Homo sapiens: one gene and its partners. The protein of the gene in region 1 interacts with the protein of each later gene in a pairwise test. Each region holds a gene or a part of one and is shown on either strand. Other genes may lie near its edges.

Region 1 (7,033 bases):
GCATGGTGGCACGTGCCTATAAATCCCAGCTACTCGGGAGGCTGAGGCAGGAGAATCACTTGAACCCGGGAGGCAGAGGTTGCAGTGAGCCGAGATCGTGCTGTTGCACTCCAGCCCGGGCAACAAAGCAAGATTCCGTTTCAAAAAAACCAAAAAAAAAAGCCAAACTACCCAATACTAACGAACTGAGTAAACAGAGCAAATTTGTTGATAAAGTATTAGTCACCTAAAATTATAATTATGAAGGCTATATATATTAACATGGAAATACTAACATATTAGGTGAAGTATATGCTATGGTTTAACTGTGGGGTTGTTTTTTCTTTGCCGGTTATCCAGTACAGCTTTGACATTTGAGGATTTGAAATTGACCATTTGTAAATGATTCATAAGTACATGACAAGTAACATTTTGAAATTTTGTTAAGACACAGACATAAATCCTATACTCTGTGACTCCACTGTATTAGGAAAAAAAAAAATCAGCCTGTGGGAATGAGCTTAGCTAACCATCCAACTTGTTATCCTATGTCTATTTTTTACTCAAGGTCATGTGTGCTTTAACTCTTCATTATCCTCTTAAAGAAGACAGCAAAACCCCGTCTCTACTAAAAATACAAAAAATTAGCCGGGCATGGTGGCATTCGCCTATAATCCCAGCTACTCAGGAGGCTGAGGCAGGAGGCTCACTTGAACGCAGGAGGCAGAGGTTGAAGTGAGCCGAGATAATCCCACTGCACTCCAGCCTGGCTGACAGAGTGAGACTCTGTCTCAAAAAAAAAAAAAAAAAGACACTTTAACCTTTCAGCTATACTTTACACTGAAATTTAGGATAGAAGTTGTAGGCCAGGCGTGGTGGCTCACACCTGTAATCCCAGCACTTTGGGAGGCTGAGGTGGGTGGATCACGAGGTCGGGACCAACCTGGCCTACATGGTGAAACCCTGTCTCTCCTAAAACTACAAAAATTAGCCAGGCGCAGTAGCAGGCGCCTGTAATCCCAGCTATTCAGGAGGCTGAGGCAGGAGACCTGCTTGAACCCAGGTTGCAGAGGCTGCAGTGAGCCGAGATCATGCTACTGCACTCCAGCCTGGGTGACAGAGTGAGACTCTGTCTCAAAAAAAAAAAAAAAAAGGCCAGGCGAAGTGGCTCACGCCTGTAATCCCAGCACTTTGGGAGGCCGAGGCAGGGGGATCATGAGGTCAGGAGTTCAGGACCAGCCTGACGAACATGGAGAAACCCCATCTCTACTAAAAATACGAAAATTAGCCAGGGCATGGTGGTGCGTGCCTGTGATCCCAGCTACTCAGGAGGCTGAGGCAGAAGAATCGCTTGAACCCGGGAGGCGGAGGTTGCAGTGAGTCGAGATCGTGCCACTGCACTCCAGCCTGTGCAACAGAGCAAGACTCCATCTCAAAATAAAAATAAAAGTTGTATTGGACTCGGGTTTATCATATTGCTGAACATGTCAATTACAAATGACTGGTATATATGAACAGAAGAAAAAATATTCCCAAATGAAAAGTTATGTTTGAATATTATGAGTGATTGCCCTTCAGTTGCTTTAATTACAGAAAGTGTGAAAGGGAAGAGGTAAGTAGCAGGTTAACATCTCTCCACAAATGGCCACAGCTACTGAAAACTAACCATTAGTGGGAAGGAACCAAGAAGAAGTCATGTCTTGGGACACTAAAAGCAAAGGTGATACGGGATATATTTTTTGAGCTTGAAAGAGAAAGTGTGTTTTTTTTTTTTTTTTTTTGGAGACAGAGTCTTGCTCTGTCACCCAGGCTGCAGTACACACTGGCGCGATCTCGGCTCACTGCAACCTCCGTCTCTCAGGTTCAAGCGATTCTCCTGCCTCAGCCTCCGGAGTAGCTGGGATTATAGGCATGCACCACTTCACCCGGCTAATTGTTGTATTTTTAGTAGAGATGGCGTTTCACCATGTTGGCCAGGCTGGTCTAGAACTCCTGACCTCAGGTGATCCACCTGCCTCTGCCTCCCAAAGTGCTGGGATTACAGGCATGAGCCACTGCGCCCAGCCAGGAAAAGTAGTTTCTATCTTAAAACACTATGAATAATTTATTCACCCAAAATTAGGAGTTTGCCTTTAAGAAATCCGTATAAATTATCTTTAGAGCATTATTAGTATACAACATATAACCCGGATATTGTGAAGATTTGACTCTTGCTTCTGATTTAGCCTCTCCCATCTTCAAATGATTCACGTGCTGGAAAGTCTGGGTTCAGTTTAGTTTTTCCCTGAGGCCTCTATCTTTTCCCAGGTATTAAATAGCTCCAGACTGCCTCACCTGTAAGGTTGATGTCTCCCAGCAAATCAAGAAGTTCTCCACCAGCAGAAGATGGTTTGCTTGTAGGCGCAGTTGGAATAACAGGTGTTATGTCATTTCCTCCCAACAAATCCAATAAATCATTGGCCTAAACAAGGTAACAACACCTCAATTCATTATTATTTGATTTGTCTAGTATACATCTAATGCAAAGCTCTTTCAATATGTAAAAATAAGGAAGGAAATCATCAACCAACCCAGGAACATTAAAGGGACTCAGCTAAGAGACAAGCTGTAAGGGACTATAAAATCGTAAGAAGCCCCAGATGAGCAAGTGAAAGGCTGGCTACCTGGCTGGTGGGCTGTGGCCCAGAGGGTGGCGGTTTGGTCTCTAGTGGAGCTGGTTCTGTCTCTCCATTTGTCTGCACAATCTCAGTAGGGCCATTTGTGGTCACTTTTTCCATGACAGGCATTCTCTCAAGTAGGGCAGACCTAGAAGAATCTGAAGTGGTTAAATTCTAGGCAGTTAACCTAGATTCCCTACCCAAAATAATCACCATTAACTATGTTGAGCCCAAGCATGGAGATCTATCTCCCCTCCCCATCCAACACACACACTAAAATAGAAGGTAGATTACAAGAATACATGACCTAAATTCCTGGCTGGATTAAGGGCAGACAAAAAAATCTTGAATAAACAGACTGCCCAGCTAAATCCCAAAGCATATATTTCAGTGGTAGAGAGACTGAGATGAAAGAAAGGTAAATCCATAGGTATTAACAGTCAAGAAGATACTGTATAATAGAAGAATAAAAGATGACCCAAACACTAGAATGTTAACAGTAAAAGAATTTGAATGAGATTATTTGTCTTGAAAAAATACAACTCCCACTTCTTTTTTTTTTGAGACAGAGTCTTGCTCTGTCGCCAGGCTGGAGTGCAGTGGCATGATCTTGGCTCACTGAAACATCCGCCTCCCAGGTTCAAATGATTCTCCTGCTTCAGCCTCTCGAGTAGCTGGGAATACAGGCATGCGCCACCATGCCCAACTAATTTTTTTGTATTTTTAGTAGAGACGGGGTTTCACCATGTTGGCCAGGATGGTCTCGATCTCTTGACCTCGTGATCTGCCCGCCTCGGCCTCCCAAAGTGCTGGGATTACAGGCGTGAGCCACCACGCCCGGCCTCCCACTTCTTAACTAAATAAAATAGAAAATAAAGCAAACTTTCCATATCAAAAAAAGTGTAAGTGTTGGAGGTGGAATGAAAGAGAGTTAATTTATTTCTTTAGAGACTAGGCAGAATAGAAGATGGACAAAACAGAAGCAGACAAGCAATTAGAACTAAATAGGGATACGAGGAACAATTAATAAAGCACAAGGAATGAATCTTCTTTATGGATTACCATGACAATTTAGTCAGGATGCTAAGAGATACACGCATTGCTTAGTTTCTTTCGCTCACCTCATGTGGTCATATTTCTTGAAAAGTGCATTATATTCTACTGCCCTCTGCTGGAGTTCCACATCAATGCTGCTTCCGTAGATGGAAACCACTTTCTTAATTCGGCTATAGATAAAATGACAAACGAAATAAAATACCCAAAAGAAAATTCACAAATAAGCAGAGATAATGTTTAATAAGCCAGAATTTTCTGGTTAAAATACTGAAATACTCATTTTTTCTTAATTTATATAGTTTTTCAAAAACAAAACACTTTACTTTCATCCATTTATCTGACATTCGCATTATACTATTCTCATTGTAACACTAGATTTTTGTCTGTTAAATATGCCATCCCCATTCAGCAACAATGATGGTGTGGAAAAAACACATATATATATGCCACTCCCTAAACTTTGCTAGACAAAAGTACCAACTATTACTTTGCCACAAAAGAAATTTGTACTGTTCATTCTCTTCTTTGATAATTTTTAAATAATTTTTAATCTATAAAAGGGTCAGAGCCTCAAAATGTTGACCCCAAATTCTTCCAGTTCAGAATTTTAAAAGTAATTCAATACCATTTTTTATAAGACTTCACATTTAAAAGTGAAGCAGAAAGACTACAAGAACTACGTTGGCCTTAAATATGCTTGGGTGGGAAAGTGACCTGAGAATCTACTTTATTCAAAAAAGCAAAGAGGAGAATTAAAAGATTTAATCACCAAAACATTCATGATTTTATTCCTATTAAGACTTGTCAAAATATAATAAACCAAAACCTTGGCCAGATTACAAGGTCAGGAGTTCGAGACCAGTCTGGCCAAAATGGTGAAACCCCATCTCCACCAAAAAATACAAAAATTAGCCAGGCATGGTGGTGTGCGCCTGTAATCCCAGCTACTCAGGAGGCTGAGGCAGGAGAATTGCTTGAACCCTGGAGATGGAGATTGCAGTGAGCCGAGATTGTATGCCACTGCACTCCAGCCTGGCAACAGAGCAAGATTCTGTCATAAAATAAAATGAAATATAAAATACAAATAAACCAAAACCTTTATATGGGGAAGTAGATTCTCAACTTAAAAAGAAAAAAAAAAGGTATTAGAAATCTCATTCTAAAAACGTAACTTTTAGGCCAGGTGGAGTGGGTCACATCTGTAATCCCTGCACTTTGGGAGGTCAGGGCAGGAGGATCACTTGAGCCCAGGAGTTTGAGACCAGCCTGGGCAAACAAACGAAACACTTTCTCTACAAAAAAATGTAAAAATTAGCCAGGCACGATGGTGTGCACTTATAGTCCCAGCTCCTCTGGAGGCTGAGACAGGAAGATCCCTTAAGCCCAGGAGTTCAAGGTTGCAGTAAAATATGATGGCGCCACTGCACCCCATCCTGGGTAAGAGAGCGAGACCCTGTCTCAACAAACAAACAAAACCCCCTAAACTTTTCTGCTTCAAAATAATCCACAAGGGAGTAAAAGAATGAGAGGGAACAAAGTGCTGATGAATAAAGATTAACCACAAATTGATCACTGTGACTGTGGAGAAATAAGTAATGGAAATTTGTGTTATTATTCTCTCTACTTTTGTCTATGCTTGAAATTTTCCATGATAACAAGTTTTTTGGGATTTTTTTTGTTTTTTAATTACAAAACAACCTGTTCACCCTATGTTTCTTCAATACTCACTTTACAGTACAAGTGAATCGAGTGGAAAGCTTCATAATGGCAGTGAGGGCATAACCTCGTGTCACAGAGGTGGACATATTAGAGATTAGGACACTTTCTAAAATATCCAACACTTCATCCTCTGTTACCTGAGGAGGAGGAGGAAAAAGAAGACGATGAAGAATGAGTAGCATGATTAAGCATCTAAATCTGATATCAAGTCAGGGGAAGCAGCCAGAAAGACAATCCTACCGTTACAAAAGCCTCTAACTCAACCTGTGCTTTGCCAGGGTAACTGTCCAAGCTGTTCTATCAACCAGAGTAGTTGGGGGTAAAAAAAAGTGCTCTGGTTCTATCAACCAGAGCAGGTGGGGGTAAAAAGAGTGAAAAATGACCACTGGGGCTGAGAGGCAATATTAGAGCTTCAAGTGGCAGAAACAGAAGAAGAAAAGAAAAACATACAGAGTTCAAGTGTTGTTGCCACAATTTTCCCTTTTAAAGCCAGTCCTTTAATGTGCAAATAAGAACATGGATACATGTCTCATTTCTTCTTGTTTACCAGCCAGAGGGTAAGAGAAACAGTAATTCAGTCCACTAGGACAGAGACTTGGGCCTAAAGTGGTTTTAAAATCTCACAATGGGGCCAGGCAAAGTGGCTCACACCTGTTTTGTTTTTTTTTTGTTTTTTTTGTTTTGAGACGGAGTCTGGCTCTGTCACCCAGGCTGGAATGCAGTGGCGCAATCTTGGCTCACTGCAAGCTCCACCTCCCGGGTTCACGCCATTCTCCTGCCTCAGCCTCCCGAGTAGCTGGGACTACAGGTGCCTGCCACCACGCCCGGCCAATTTTTTCTACTTTTTAGTAGAGATAGGGTTTCACTGTGTTAGCCAGGATGGTCTGGCTAACCACCCTGCAGGTGACCTCATGATCCACCCGCCTTGGCCTCCCAAAGTGCTGGGATTACAGGCATGAGCCACCACACTCAGCAATGCCTGTTAATCCCAACACTTTGAGAGGCCAAGGCAGGCAGATTGCTTGAGTCCAGAAGTTCAAGACCAGCCTGGGCAACACGGTGAAACCCTGTCTCTACAAAAAAAAAGTAGAATAAACTAGCCAGGGTGGTGCCTGCCTATAGTCCCAGCTACTCAGGAGGCTGAGGTGGGAAGATCGCTTGAAACCCAGGAGATCAAGGCTGCAGTGAATTGTGATCCCACCATGGCACTCCAGCTTGGGTGACAGAGTGAGACTCTATTAAAAAAAAAAAAACAAAAAACCTCACAATGGCTCAATAAGTTCCATCTCAAAAAATGGCAGGTTTTCCAATATAATTCGCGTTTGCTTCTTTAAAAAGTTGGGTATTTTTTAAATTTTTTTGAGACAGGGTCTCACTCCTGAGTAGCTGGGACTAGACACCATCATACCTGTCTAATATTTGTGTCTTTTGTAGAGACAGAGTTTCACCATGTTGCCCAGGCTGGTCTCAAACTCCTGGGCTCAAGCGATGCTCCCATCTCAGCCTCCCAAAGCGCTGGGATTATAGGCATGAGCCACCACGCCTGGCCTAAAAAGTTTTCAAGGAATCAACCTCAACTCCCCATTAAACACTACTCTCCTATAACCAAAACCACTATTTTC
Region 2 (7,018 bases), on another chromosome or scaffold:
GATGCAAAGATGAATTAGCTTCTCCCCTAGCCCTCAAAAGTCCTGAAGTAGCCAGGAGAAAAGGTGGCTTCAGTTTGACACCAAAGGAGAATCACTAAGGTCCCAGAAAGAAGGGATTCTTGGGAGCTGAGGGTAAAGTCTGTGAGTGGTTGAAGGAGTGTTCAGATGGGGATGATTCCCCTGAGAGTCTCATTTGACTCACGTGGCTGACTTCCAGAGACCTTCTCCAGCTCTAGAATTCTAGTAGTGAAGCCATTTTTGTTGATTTCACAGTCTGGACTCTCCTGAATCTACTGGCTCTTTCATTTACTCCTACCCACCTCTCCCATCAGAAAACAACTTCTGTAAACAGGAAAAAGTGGCATTCTGGCCTCCTATCACAACGCAGCCACTGGGGGCTGTTAGGTGTCCCCCAGCAGCTTGGGAGTAAAATCATGAGTAAAGCACTGGCAGGGGGTGGGTGAGGTGGAAGTGAGGGGGCAGAGAAGATGAAAGGAATACAGAATCCTGGCCAGTCTCCCAGGGTGGCTGAAACCCAGGAGATCTGTAGCTTTCACGGATGACCCATTCTGACTAAAGATGACCAGCTCCCAGTCTGAAAAACCCACAGAAGTCAAGCCATTCCCAAAGGCCCTAGGGAATGCCAGTACACCCCCAAAGAAGGCCTTGATTTAATCTTGGTCTTCAGAAATATCCCTCTCCCCTGAGGCTAACAGAAATTCCCAGGGAATTAAAATGACCCTGCCCATACAAGCGTCTTGCCAATTTCAGGGTGCTGTCCTGGGGCTGAAGTGGAGCTTCTCCTCTGGAGGATGCAGGCCTTCAGGACCACCTCTCTGGCAGGGCTGGCCCATGTTTGGCAGGGTACCATGAATGAGTGTGTCTGTCCCAGGCCCCACCTGTTGCAGTGACCAGATCTCATGATGGATGGGATATGAATTAGTATGGCAGAGTAATAAATCAAGGAGTGTCAGGAAAGTTGTGAGGAACATGTATGTACATATAGAGCCATCCCATAATAACTCTTTCATACCCATACATATGCATATACGCACATACACACACACACCATATACTCCCAGTCACCACGGCAACCATTTCTTAAAGCTGTACTTACGGGGTTTTGGTTGTTTTTTATTATTATTTTTTTCATGCTAGATCTTTTCACCCTTATTTCTTCGGAGTACATCTCTGGCCTTTGACTCTCTGCTGAGAAGTACCATACCTCCTTGGGAAACCCTGTCACATCTAACATTTACCAGGTCCCTCTAAAAGGCTCATATCTATCCTCATGCTGACACTGAATTCAGCCAACACACCATTTGGTGACTTGCTAAAAGCATTGGCAATACAAAATAACCATTCTGATTGCCACTGTGAGTCAGAAAAACTGGAGACAAATATAGTGTAATGTATTGTACAGCTTTCACAGACAGTCCTCAATTTTAAAATAAAACCAAGTCACAAAGTTAATGTGGAAAAGGAGCCAGCTTTGGTCCTTAAAAATGGAGAAACCTATTCTTGATTAAAGTGACAGCTCTATTTAGTAGGCATGGATTTAAGATTCTTAACCTTGTAAAAGTAATTCGCATTTCCTTCCTCTTCCATATGTTATACATTATGCTTCAAATTAACCCTATTTTCCATTTTAGATTTCATTATTCAAAAATGCCAATAATATCAGTGGGTGAAGAAACACTTAAAACATTTTTATCCAAATATTGACCTTGCTTTGGACAACATCCATGTAATAAGTAGTGAGATTTTTTCCTTTTAATGTCACCAATATGTTTATGATTAAAGGTCAGTCTGTGGCAACAGTTTGCATCTCTGCGCTATAATTACTTGTTCTGCTAAAAAATAAAAAAATAAAATAAAATAAAATCCTGACTTATGACCTGACCAGACAATTCTTTGCATCTCCTTTTATCAGATTTCTGCTGGATGAGGAATGACCTAGGCAAGAGTATTTAATTTATAGTCAAAATCCACATGTGTGCCCTGCCTCCTGCAAAGCATTGGGACACCATAGGGTAGGGAGAGAAGTCCTTTGCTATGGAACAACTGCTCCAAAAGTAACCTAAAGTGCAGAACTAGCGATGGGGCGGGGTGCATTTATTTTGACCTAAACTGGGATTCTGGTCTTTGAAGCCCGCGAGTGGGCTCATTTCCTAGAGGGAGAAAAGGGGAAGCGACAAGAAAGACTCCACCCAGGCGATCCCAGGCAGGCGCCTTGTGTATAAATCCAGGGAGAGAGGGGCACCAGGTGGCCAATGGATGAGAAGTCACCCGGCTGGGTACGCAGGTGGCCAGGGGATGGCAGATGGGCCAAAGCGGGGCGGAGGCGGCCCTGGGCGGATCAGGGGGTGGGTGGCTGAGGGATATGTGTGCGGAGGAGGTGGGCTGTCCTCCCACCCACCGGTCTCCCGACCAGCGAGCAAGCTTTGGACAAGGCCAAAGAGCATTGGGCTGCTGGAAGCTGGGGCATCGGCGCAGCCTTCGGTAAGGGGCTCTGGTCGACCCCACTCCCTGGGCTTGCATCTGTCCACTGATCAGTGGGCAGGTCCTGCCTCTGCTTCCTCCCAGCCACCCCCGCCGCGCCATCAATTCCTCAGGGAACCGGCTCCTCTCTCAGTGCCCGGGCCAAGGCGCCCGGGGTAGCGGGCGGGCGAGGGTCTGCAGGGGCCCGGCCACTTACCCGAGTGCAGGCCGCCCGCTTCGGGGCCGCTGTCCGGGGCGGCGGCGCTGGGCGGCGCGTCCGAGTCGGTGTAGGTGAGCCAGGTGGATTCTGTCTCCCGGGTCCAGCTCTCGTAGTAGCGGGGCTCGATGGCATCCGCCCGGCTCCCGCCGCAGCCCATCCTCCTGCGCCGCGGGAGCGCCCAGCGGCTGCTCGGCTGTCGGCTCTGGCGGCGGCTCAGCCCCGGAGGCGCAGCCCCGGCCCGCAAGGAGGCGGCGGCGGCGACATCGCGTCCCCGCTCCCGCCCGCGCTGCAGCCGCGCGGAGCTCCTGCGGTGCCCGCCGCCCCTAGTCCGGGCCCTCTCCCAGCCCGTCCCTCCTCTCCGCCTCCAAGGCCCTCCCTCCCCTCCGGTCCCCACCGCCCAGTCCTCCCTCCCAGCGCCCTGGCCGCCCCAAGGCCCCCGCTCGCCCGCCCCCTCCCTCAGGGCTCCGTGACGGCCCGGGAGCAGGAGCAGCGGCCCCGCAGCCGGAGGAGGGCTGGGGCTCCCGAGGCGCTCGGACCCGTCTGGCCGGCATTACCGTTCCCAGTCTCTGGCCCATCTATCCATCCATCCATCCATCCATCCATCCATCCGCTCACCCGCTCATTCATTCATCCATCCATCCATCCTTCCTTCCTTCTTTCCATCCATCCTGGAAAGAACTGAAACTCTTATCACGGGACCCCAGGCTTTCTGGCCACCTGTTACAAAAGCAATGGAACTGGGAGCAACCCCGCAAAACTGGTCAGGGAGTATTGCCACTAAGACTTAAGGAACAGTCAGAGCCTATGCCTGTCGTATCTGATTTGGGGAGGCAGGAGTAGGGCTATGATTTTTAAGAGAGTTAGGCTAGGCAGTGTCACTTACACCCCTTCCAGCTGTGGTACTTCATGATCCTCTGAACTTTAAACTCGAGAAAGCAATAGATCACCTGGAACCACGCAGCATCCTGAACCCCCTCTCTGGGCAAGGCTTGGAGGCATGGCCGGTCCCTTCAAGCCCAGGGTGGCCTTGACATTCCCGGGATCCAGTTGTCAGCCTTTCTTTTCTCGGTGCACCCTCAGGTCCATGCGGGTTCAGACCTAGAGCTCAGACTTGCGTAGGCCAATGAATTTACCTGTTCCAAGAATCCAGAACAGGTGGTGAAAGATGAAAATCTTCTTAGCCTTCAAGAGGGGGGTAGGAAAGGGAAGGGTTTGGAAGAATAACTCTTCAATGACCAAGCTCTGCTAGAATATGGTATTAAGTATCATATTCATTCATTCATTCATTCAATGTATATTTACTAAATTCCTATTGTGGCAAAAGACTGTTCTAGTAGACATAATACATATATAATATATTTTGTATATTATCCATTGTATGTAGACTATAGGGTGTGATGTTTAATATAGCATGTAAAGCATAGAGAATATAGTACTCATTATATCCTATATAATTTATAGAATGTACGAGAGTACATTGTCTATAACATTTAGCACGTAGCATCCAATAGGTAGGGCAAGTTCAGAGCATTGCCTGGCACAGAGTAGGCCCTCAGTAAATGTCCAGTGAATTAATAATGAAGTATCTTTTTATAGTAATTTGATTCACTTAAATTATTGTAATTTGGGCTAAAGATGATCCAGTTGAGGGTAGAGCTGTCAGACATTCCTCTGGCAGGCACTCACCAGAATCCATAATGTGGAAGGGAGCAAAGATTCATGGAACTGTGGCCAGGGTCTCCTCCTCCTCATGCTGAGCGCAGCACCCGTTCGCACCCCAGGACTCAGGCTGGCCTCCTCTGCAGGCTTTGCTTCTCCTTTTGAGATGGCCTTGACAGGACTCTTCAACCTTGTTTTAGGTGTAAGGTGGAGGGAGTGCAGTTATCCGGGAAGTGGTGGCTTCCCTAGTCCTTTGGAATTCAGATGCCCTGTGCCTCTTTTCCTTCCCCCCTGAATATTTTGATTTCAGAAGAACCAGCTTTCAGGGAGAGAGAATACTTAACATCTCTAGCAGAGCCTGTGCTTTCCTCAGTTCTACGGCACAGTGCTCCTTTCATAACCAGCCACTTCGTGATGTCACCACCCAAAGAGCAGACAGACCAGAAAGAGTGTCTGAGTTAGACCGTCCTGGGGGAGTTCTAGAAAACGAAAGAAACTGAAAGAGCTAGAGCTTGGTGAGCACAGGAAACAGAGTAAACGTGAGGTGAAGTGGAGGGGTATCCTGGGGCCAAATAGAAACCCACATGCCCATATGTCTAAATTGTAAAAGCTATAAACCAAGTGAGCAAGTTTAATTGAAACATGGGCTGTCCTCATACCTTGACAAGTTATCTTCATAAAAACTTAAAAGGCCAGGTTCTAATGTAGAGTTCTCTCAGTCTTTGGAGTTCTGCACTGAACATGGCAGTGGGATTGTGGGTGGAATTGACCCACCCACTCCTCTTTCTATCCTCAGTTCAGTCCTGCTACACACGGGTCCTTGTGGGCCCATGGGTCTAAGGTCTGTCCATACTCCCCTCCCACAAATAGCTGCCCTTGGCCATCCCTCTGGCTGAGGAGCATGTGCCTGGGGGATGTGGTCTGCCCTCATGGGGTTTGCTTCCAGTACAAGCCCTGGAAGTAGGCTCAGTGGGTTTGGAGAAGAGAGTTGCAAGGTCTCAACTACCCAACAGGGAGGTTAGAAGGGGCTGAGACTCAGGCTCCAGGTACGTGCATTCTGTGATCCCTGGATTCCTTGGCCATAGAGAGGACCAGGGCTGGAGAACCAGAGTGGGACCTCTGGGGCAGGAGCCCAGAGCAGGGACCCCTCTTGCCAGGCCCTGTCTACTTACTTGAATGGAATTATGAACATTTCCAGAATACAGGAGATGGTTATCAAGTACTGCCTGGCTAAGGTTGAGTGTGGTCACTCATTTCACACACATTTCTGATCATCTATTGTGTATAGTTTAAGCTTCTTAAAGACAAAGATATGGTGACATGCTTGGAATCTTCAAAAGGGATTAACTTAATGCCTTCATAGAGTCAGTGCTCATCAAATGTTTGCCTAATGAATGAATAGCAAAAGACAAGGTGGGGATACAGTTAACAGTGCAATTTCAAGAGCCTGACTCTCTGAGTTTAAAGTTTGGCTCTGCTACTTAAGTGGATGGTCTTGGGCAAGCTACTTAACCTCTTTATGCCTCAACTGCATCGTCTGTAAATTGGAATAATAAATTGTGTCAGTATGTGTAAAGGGCCTCAAAGAGTGCCTGGCACATAGAAACACTCCATGAATGTTGCTATCACAACACTTTTGGGGCAACAAGCAACAATGTCATCTCTCTTCCTTAAGAGGGAAATCCCTGAAATTATTATGTCTTTTCACATGAGATAATGTTTGTGAATTTGCTTAGCACACTGCAGAAGTTTGGTAAATAGGTAGGTTTTTTTCTTTTCTTTCCTTTCTTTTTCCTTCCGTTATGATGTTACTGCTAACAACCTTCCTGCAAATAAATTTTTTTACCCCCATTTCTAAGTAATCATCATCGACAGAGCAGTTAGATTTTTTCATGGAATCTCTTTCTTGGCATTACGTAACACCATTGATTCAGAGAAATTCAGAAGCCAGAAAAAGTTAAAGAGCAGCCAATCCAGTCCTTTTATTTTACCAACTAGGAAATCGTAGCTCAGAAAGCTGTAAAATTGCCCAAGGTCACACAGGAAATGTTATCTCTGGCAGAGCTGAAGTTTCAGCCAGAGCTGGGGGCCTGTGGCTGCTGGCTCCGTGCTCTTTTAATTACAGCTCTTTAGTTGGGATTGAATTTTCTCCTAAACCTTCAGGAATAAATGTCATAAATTAAATGTAAATATGTAAAATGTAATACATTATCTTAAACCCTCTGTTCAGAATCTGTAGCTTGACTGGCATGAATTGGTTATCTTTTTCCATCAAGTTTGAAAGCAACAAAAAAAGAATTCTCCTAAGGAGAAATGCTGCAACAGGGCATTGGAAAGCCTGAGCCAAAGCCATCCAGAGCAATGAAATAAATTACACCTGTAAAAACTACTGCAGAGTGGTATTTGCTATATGATGGGATTCTCAAAATAAATTCTCTCTGGCTTTAAGAACCCCTGTGACTGGTACCACCTCTGGCTCATTTCTATGGAAACTGAAGCAAAGGCCTGTAGTGCTTCTCCCTCCAAGGTCTCATTTCTGTGGCTTGGCATCACTGGACTCTACCCGACTATTGTGAGCTGTAGAAAACAGACCTTCAGTAAGGCGGACAATCAGGACAGAACAGAAGGGTTAGCAGGAACCTAAACCTGCCTTTAGAA
Region 3 (5,541 bases), on another chromosome or scaffold:
GTTAATAGGCAGGGTAGAAGGGCAGGAAGTTTTTAAACCACTGACTGGTTCATTATCCTGATAAATGTCCATCTTGAACTTAAATTTATTAGTTTTTTTTAATATATATTGCCTGATTACTATTTATGTTTCAAAAATTCCAACTATACATTGCTAGCAGAAACCCACAGGCCTGTTTTCAGTGAATAGCTAGCTGCATGTTGGAGGCTTTTTAAACCTATAAACGTCTTTTTTTCCAGTAGACTAGCAACTTAATTTGATGGTAGTTCCTGCCTCCTTCTTAAATAGCCCAGTTTTAGAATGTAACATTTCCTATCTGTAGTAATAGGAGGTCCCTTAACTATCATGATTACCATAGATTTGATTTGTTGCATAGGTTAGGTAGTACAGTCTGCAAGTATTAGTCCCTTTCTGTTGCATGTGCTAGCACCTTCAGTTCACAAGGGGGTAAGAGGAATCCAGTTGATTTGAAATACCTTTTGAGTAACAGTCTAAGTTGTTCATTCAGAAAGAGTAGAAAAGTCAACTGCATCAAGGTTTTAAAAGCAGCATTTATTGATTGAAAATAAATGTGTAGATAGGCTCTCAGTATGGAATCCATGTTATTTTTTAATGAAGTACATGAAGACTCCTTAGATCTTCCACCATGTATCTTGTGTGTGCTTATAACAACCACCATATTCAAATGGAGGGGAATTTTCAACATTTTACTGAAAAAAAAATGAGAAATTCTTCCTTCAGCAGCTCTGCATAGTTTGACAAACTTTTGGAAAGAGATAAAAACACACTCCAGTGTTTGTACGTTGAACGTTTATTACAACTAATTGGCGATGTGATAAGACAGTGCTCACGTGGCCTGAATGTTGGTCACAATCACAACAAAGCTTAATCCAGCCCAGCATATATAAGTGAAAATATAAACCATGAAGACATGTTTAGATATGTATAAGTACTTAGAAAAGTGACGCTGAACAATTACATAGCTTTAAAAAATATAGAGCCATCTAATGCCATTTTACCTCATTCAACTCTTTTTTGTAAGAAATGTGTCTTTTTAAATTTTTATAAGACTTCTGTTAACTAGGCAGTGCCATGGAAAGAAAGGAAGCTGCTGTAAAGTGTGCAGCACTTCTAAGTGGAGGGAAGCAAAATAAATTTAGCTTTAACAAGTACCCCAGAGGGAACATTCGTGCTTTAAACAATGACTTTACACATAATACTGTGAAGAGAGCAACACGTTTTTTGTAAGATACTGTTATGAAGAATTCCTGGCAAATTACCATTCTCACTTTATTTTGGGGCATCAAAAACAACTAAGTATTTGATTATGACCACAAAAAATTCATCTCAGGAGTCAAATGTGCCTTGGCCTTAAAAATTATGTGCTTACTATTGTGAAACAATCCTGTTTCTCATCCCAGATTCAGAATGCCTAAGAAATAATTTTTAGTGTAAGAAGTATCACTCCAATTTAGTCATTAAAAATAATCTGTAGTCCTTTAAAAAAAAAAAAAAAAGGTATGTAATTTCCAATACAAGTCTTTGGAGTAAATTTGCTTTTTAAAGTTTCAACAAAGTTTCCATTCATTTGATATGTGACATGTCAATTCCCTTTTTTTTTTTTTTTACATATGCTGAAATGCTGCACTAGTCTTTGGTTTCATAAAACCAGGTTTCACATTATAATTTAAGAGTTTCCTTTGTCAAATACAGTAATTAATAAATGTATACTGCCTGATTTTACATGTATATGATGTGCCATTTTCATATGTGCACATAATCAGATTAAGAGAAACTGACCTTTAAACTTTAAAATATCCAGAAAAGGTATCTCTTTCTGCACCATTCTAATTCATATTTAAGTCCCTTATCACTTAATTAACTAAAGTTCCCTTTTAAAAAAAAATTGTGTAGGCATGAATGAAGCGGCTTAGCAAAACAGTAATACTGACAAGACATCATCTTACACCATGAGCTAACATGGACATGAAGGGAGTGACCATCTACAGTGTGTGAAATGCCACAAGAAGTCATCAACAAGGGAGGAGAGTTATGTCAGTCCAATTTCTTCAAGAACACTACGTGGGGTTTCAGCTTCCTGTGGAGGGAAAATGTGAGACTCTGGTAAGCAGATCCAGGGAGTCTTGAGAATGTGAAACATTGACATGGAAGAACATGCTTGTTTTAGAGAATCAAGAAAGCAATTTCGTGTCACAGTAGCATTCTAGTTGACAGCCATTGGTTATTTAGGGTTTTGTGCCCTCAAAATTGGAGACCACAAAAGGACGTTTTCAGCATTCATTAAGTACCTGCTAATTACCTACCAATGTGCTAGATGCCGTTGCTGTCATGCAAAAAGCAGTCAAGCCCAGTGCAAACCTGCTGGCAATTTATGAAATCACTGCTACTCAATTATATATATGAAAGATAAGTTATCTTAGTGGTAAAATTCAAAACCTCTTCCCTCCGAGTTCCCACAGTTCTTCGCCTACTGTTGTGTTCCATGCTTTTTGTCACATGCATTTATAGAAATGTCTTCCTCTTGGAGTTTTTAGTTAACTGTGTCCACAGCGGCAAGTCTTCAGAAACAGCTATCTTCCCAGACCTCCCCAGTGCAACCAATGGCATCACTAGAGGCCACATATGCAAAGAATGCCATGGGCCAAAGGCATTTTTATTCTATGTAGCAACCAGCACTGGTTTTTAAGTGTCAAAGGAGGTCAAAACAAAGTAAGCATATCCAGGAAAAAATTATTTAATAATTTTCCAAAGTGGCTGATTTTGCAAATCACAAAATAAAGGACCAAGGAGGCCAACTTTCAGGTATTACTAGCAACGAATTTTGTAATTAAAAGGCAACACTATATTTTAATGATGGAAAATAATATAAATTTTTGGCATCCAGTAATAAACTTACTTTCGCATCCTAATCATGGTACAGCACAAAGCAAGGAGAAGAGAAATTATATTAAACCATAAATCTTTAGAATATTAATTGCATGTAAAGCACTTCATGGTGTAATCTTAAGTAAATTACTTAAACTCTATGGTCTGTTTCCTTATTTGGAAAACATGGATAATAGTACTTACCTTCATATGTTGAGATTAAGTGAATTAAGGCTCTGCCTAATTTATAGAAAGTGCTTCAAAAATGTTAGGTGATATAGTTACACAATTGAAATCGAAATGATTTAGCATTTATTATTAAACGCAAGTACTATACACCAATTCTACTTATAAAGCTCATATGATGACCTTTTAGTATGTCTGCATAGTAATAAAAATGGGTAAAAATCAGCTTTAGCGAAAAAAGGTATTTTTTTAAAAAGAGTCTAACCTATGAAGTATTCTTGCCCCCTCAAATTGAACCTCAATCTAGTCAGGTTACAGATCTAAATAGAAATGAGGGATATAAGAACAGCTAAACATTGCCATATGAGTATGATGGCCAAATCCATAAGGTAGGACATCCTGCAGCATAAATGACCTCGTTTTAAAAAAAAAAAATGGCAAGGCGGGAAAAAGCAGACGATTTGTTAAAGATTAAAAGAGACTTAAAACGCACATCAATCAGATACAATGTGAGAGTCTTGGTTGGAATCTGATTCTAACAAACCAAATATAAAAAGGCATTTTTCAGACAATTAGGAAAAATTGAGCCAGGCATAAGATAGTAATTATTAATTCCTGTTAATTTTGTGGGGCATGGTACTTTATCTGTTAGGGACACATACTGAAGTATTAAAGACAAACTGACAAGATGTCTAGGGCTTGCTCTAAGATACTGAGGCAAAAATGCGGGGAGTGGTTGGGGAAACAGTATTAAGTTGATGGTTCTTGAAGCTCAGTGATGTGTACACGAGGGTTCTTTATACTATTTCCTATACTCGTGAGTCTTGAAGTTTTCATGATAAAGTTTTTTAAGAAAGTCCAGTGGAAATGATGTAACACCCAAGAGTGATGTAAGCCAATCCCTTTCATTTATATTTAGCCTTAAGCATTAAATACACTGAGAATGACATCTAAATCTCATAAATATTCAAGAAAAATTTAAAATAATTATTTCCATGTAATGTTAAGTAGTTTAAAGGTTCATGTAGCCTTGAATGTATCAATTAAATAATGCCTCCATTGAATTCTACAGTTTACATTCTCAGCTTCTCCATGTAAAAATGCCCCACAGCTACTCCGTGGAGCTGGTCAGACTTTTCCCCATGTGCTCACTGCCTGCAATCTTATATAGCATTTCCTGTAGAGAATCATACTGCTTATCAAATATGCATTATTGAAAATATGTGTCCTTTCTAAAAGGCCTAGTTTCAAAGAATTATTTACACATTTTATTCTTGTGAGACTTGCACAGGTAGAGTTTTAAAATAAATTGTGGTGATAATATAAAATGGAACTTACACATGTTCACACTGAAATTGTAGCTCAAAACTACCCAGAAAAACTATTATCTATCTAAAGTAGTAAAATTTATAGAAACAGAAAGTCGAATGGTGGTTGCCAGGGGCTGGGGGACAGGGAGAAATGGGGAATTGTTGATTAATGGGTATAGAGTTTCAGTTCTGCCAGATGAAAAAGTCCTGCAGATCTGCTGCACAACAATGTGAATAAACTTAACTAACACAACTGAACTGTACACTTAAAACTGCGTAAGATGGTGAATTCTGTGTTATGTGTTTTTAACCACAATTTAAAAAATTTGCCTAGAAAAATGAAAATATAAAACGTTATTTTATGAGGGATGGAAAAGAAAAAGTCATTCACATGAGACGAAGTACATGCAATACTTTTATTTTAGACATGCAAGGAAAGCTATTTCAGAATCTACTAATTTAAAGCAAGCAGCTGTATACAGACAGCAAAAGAAGCAACATTTTGTTACAGCTTAGCACAAGGCATCCAACACAAACAGGCATGAGACAATGCATATTTATGTAGCATTAAAACCAGATGAATAATATATTGTGGGGCAGGAGGAGGAAAGGAGGGGAAAAAAAAATAGAAATGAAAGACCAATGTTTCTCAATGCTTCCAATATATAATGCTAAATTTCCCACCTGATTGATAGCACATCCAGGTGCTTCAAATGTCGTGCATTACAGTGAGAATGTTAAGAATGGAAAATCTTATCTGTGTACCTGCCTAATACTAAGTTTGGTCAAAACACATTTTCATAGATCTTCTTTCAGTGATAAATCGATTTGAACATCTTGTGAAGTTATTGTTTAATAACTTACTTAACTTAGGCTTTATGCTCTCTAGATATAAACAATGAATTCTTTTCCTTTTATAAAAAAATATGCTGCATGTTTTATTAAAAGAATATGCAATAGTTACCAATATTAAAGGTTTTAAAATTCAGAAATATAATGCCACAGTTAACAAAGTATCAAGTATTTAAATGAGGACTTAATATATTAGAATGCCATCACTAGTAAAATATAAGTATTTAGGTATTAAAACTGAATGAATATTAGAATTTTTGAACTATATAAACTCAGCATTAATGCTTTGAAAGAGTTATTATTCAGC

Evidence for each region. Proteins that work in one complex are often made in the same cells at the same time.
Region 2: the proteins of AP1G1 (region 1) and BAALC interact in a two-hybrid assay, tested with the Homo sapiens proteins (one study listed by BioGRID).
Region 3: the proteins of AP1G1 (region 1) and AP1S2 interact in binary tests that used the Homo sapiens proteins (3 or more experiments, as listed by UniProt).

The regions. Positions count from the first base shown.
Region 1 is NC_000016.10:71,742,831-71,749,863, forward strand, and holds part of AP1G1 (AP-1 complex subunit gamma-1), read right to left. Parts: intron 5,549-7,033; coding exon 5,421-5,548; intron 3,863-5,420; coding exon 3,758-3,862; intron 2,785-3,757; coding exon 2,643-2,784; intron 2,441-2,642; coding exon 2,314-2,440; intron 1-2,313. UniProt on the Homo sapiens protein: Subunit of clathrin-associated adaptor protein complex 1 that plays a role in protein sorting in the late-Golgi/trans-Golgi network (TGN) and/or endosomes.
Region 2 is NC_000008.11:103,136,738-103,143,755, reverse strand, and holds the start of BAALC (brain and acute leukemia cytoplasmic protein), read right to left. Parts: upstream 3,032-7,018; 5' UTR 2,859-3,031; coding exon 2,699-2,858; intron 2,503-2,698; exon of another isoform or gene 2,414-2,502; intron 1-2,413. UniProt on the Homo sapiens protein: May play a synaptic role at the postsynaptic lipid rafts possibly through interaction with CAMK2A.
Region 3 is NC_000023.11:15,825,275-15,830,815, forward strand, and holds the end of AP1S2 (AP-1 complex subunit sigma-2), read right to left. Parts: exon of another isoform or gene 4,785-5,541; intron 2,927-4,784; coding exon 2,918-2,926; intron 2,099-2,917; coding exon 2,051-2,098; 3' UTR 532-2,050; downstream 1-531. UniProt on the Homo sapiens protein: Subunit of clathrin-associated adaptor protein complex 1 that plays a role in protein sorting in the late-Golgi/trans-Golgi network (TGN) and/or endosomes.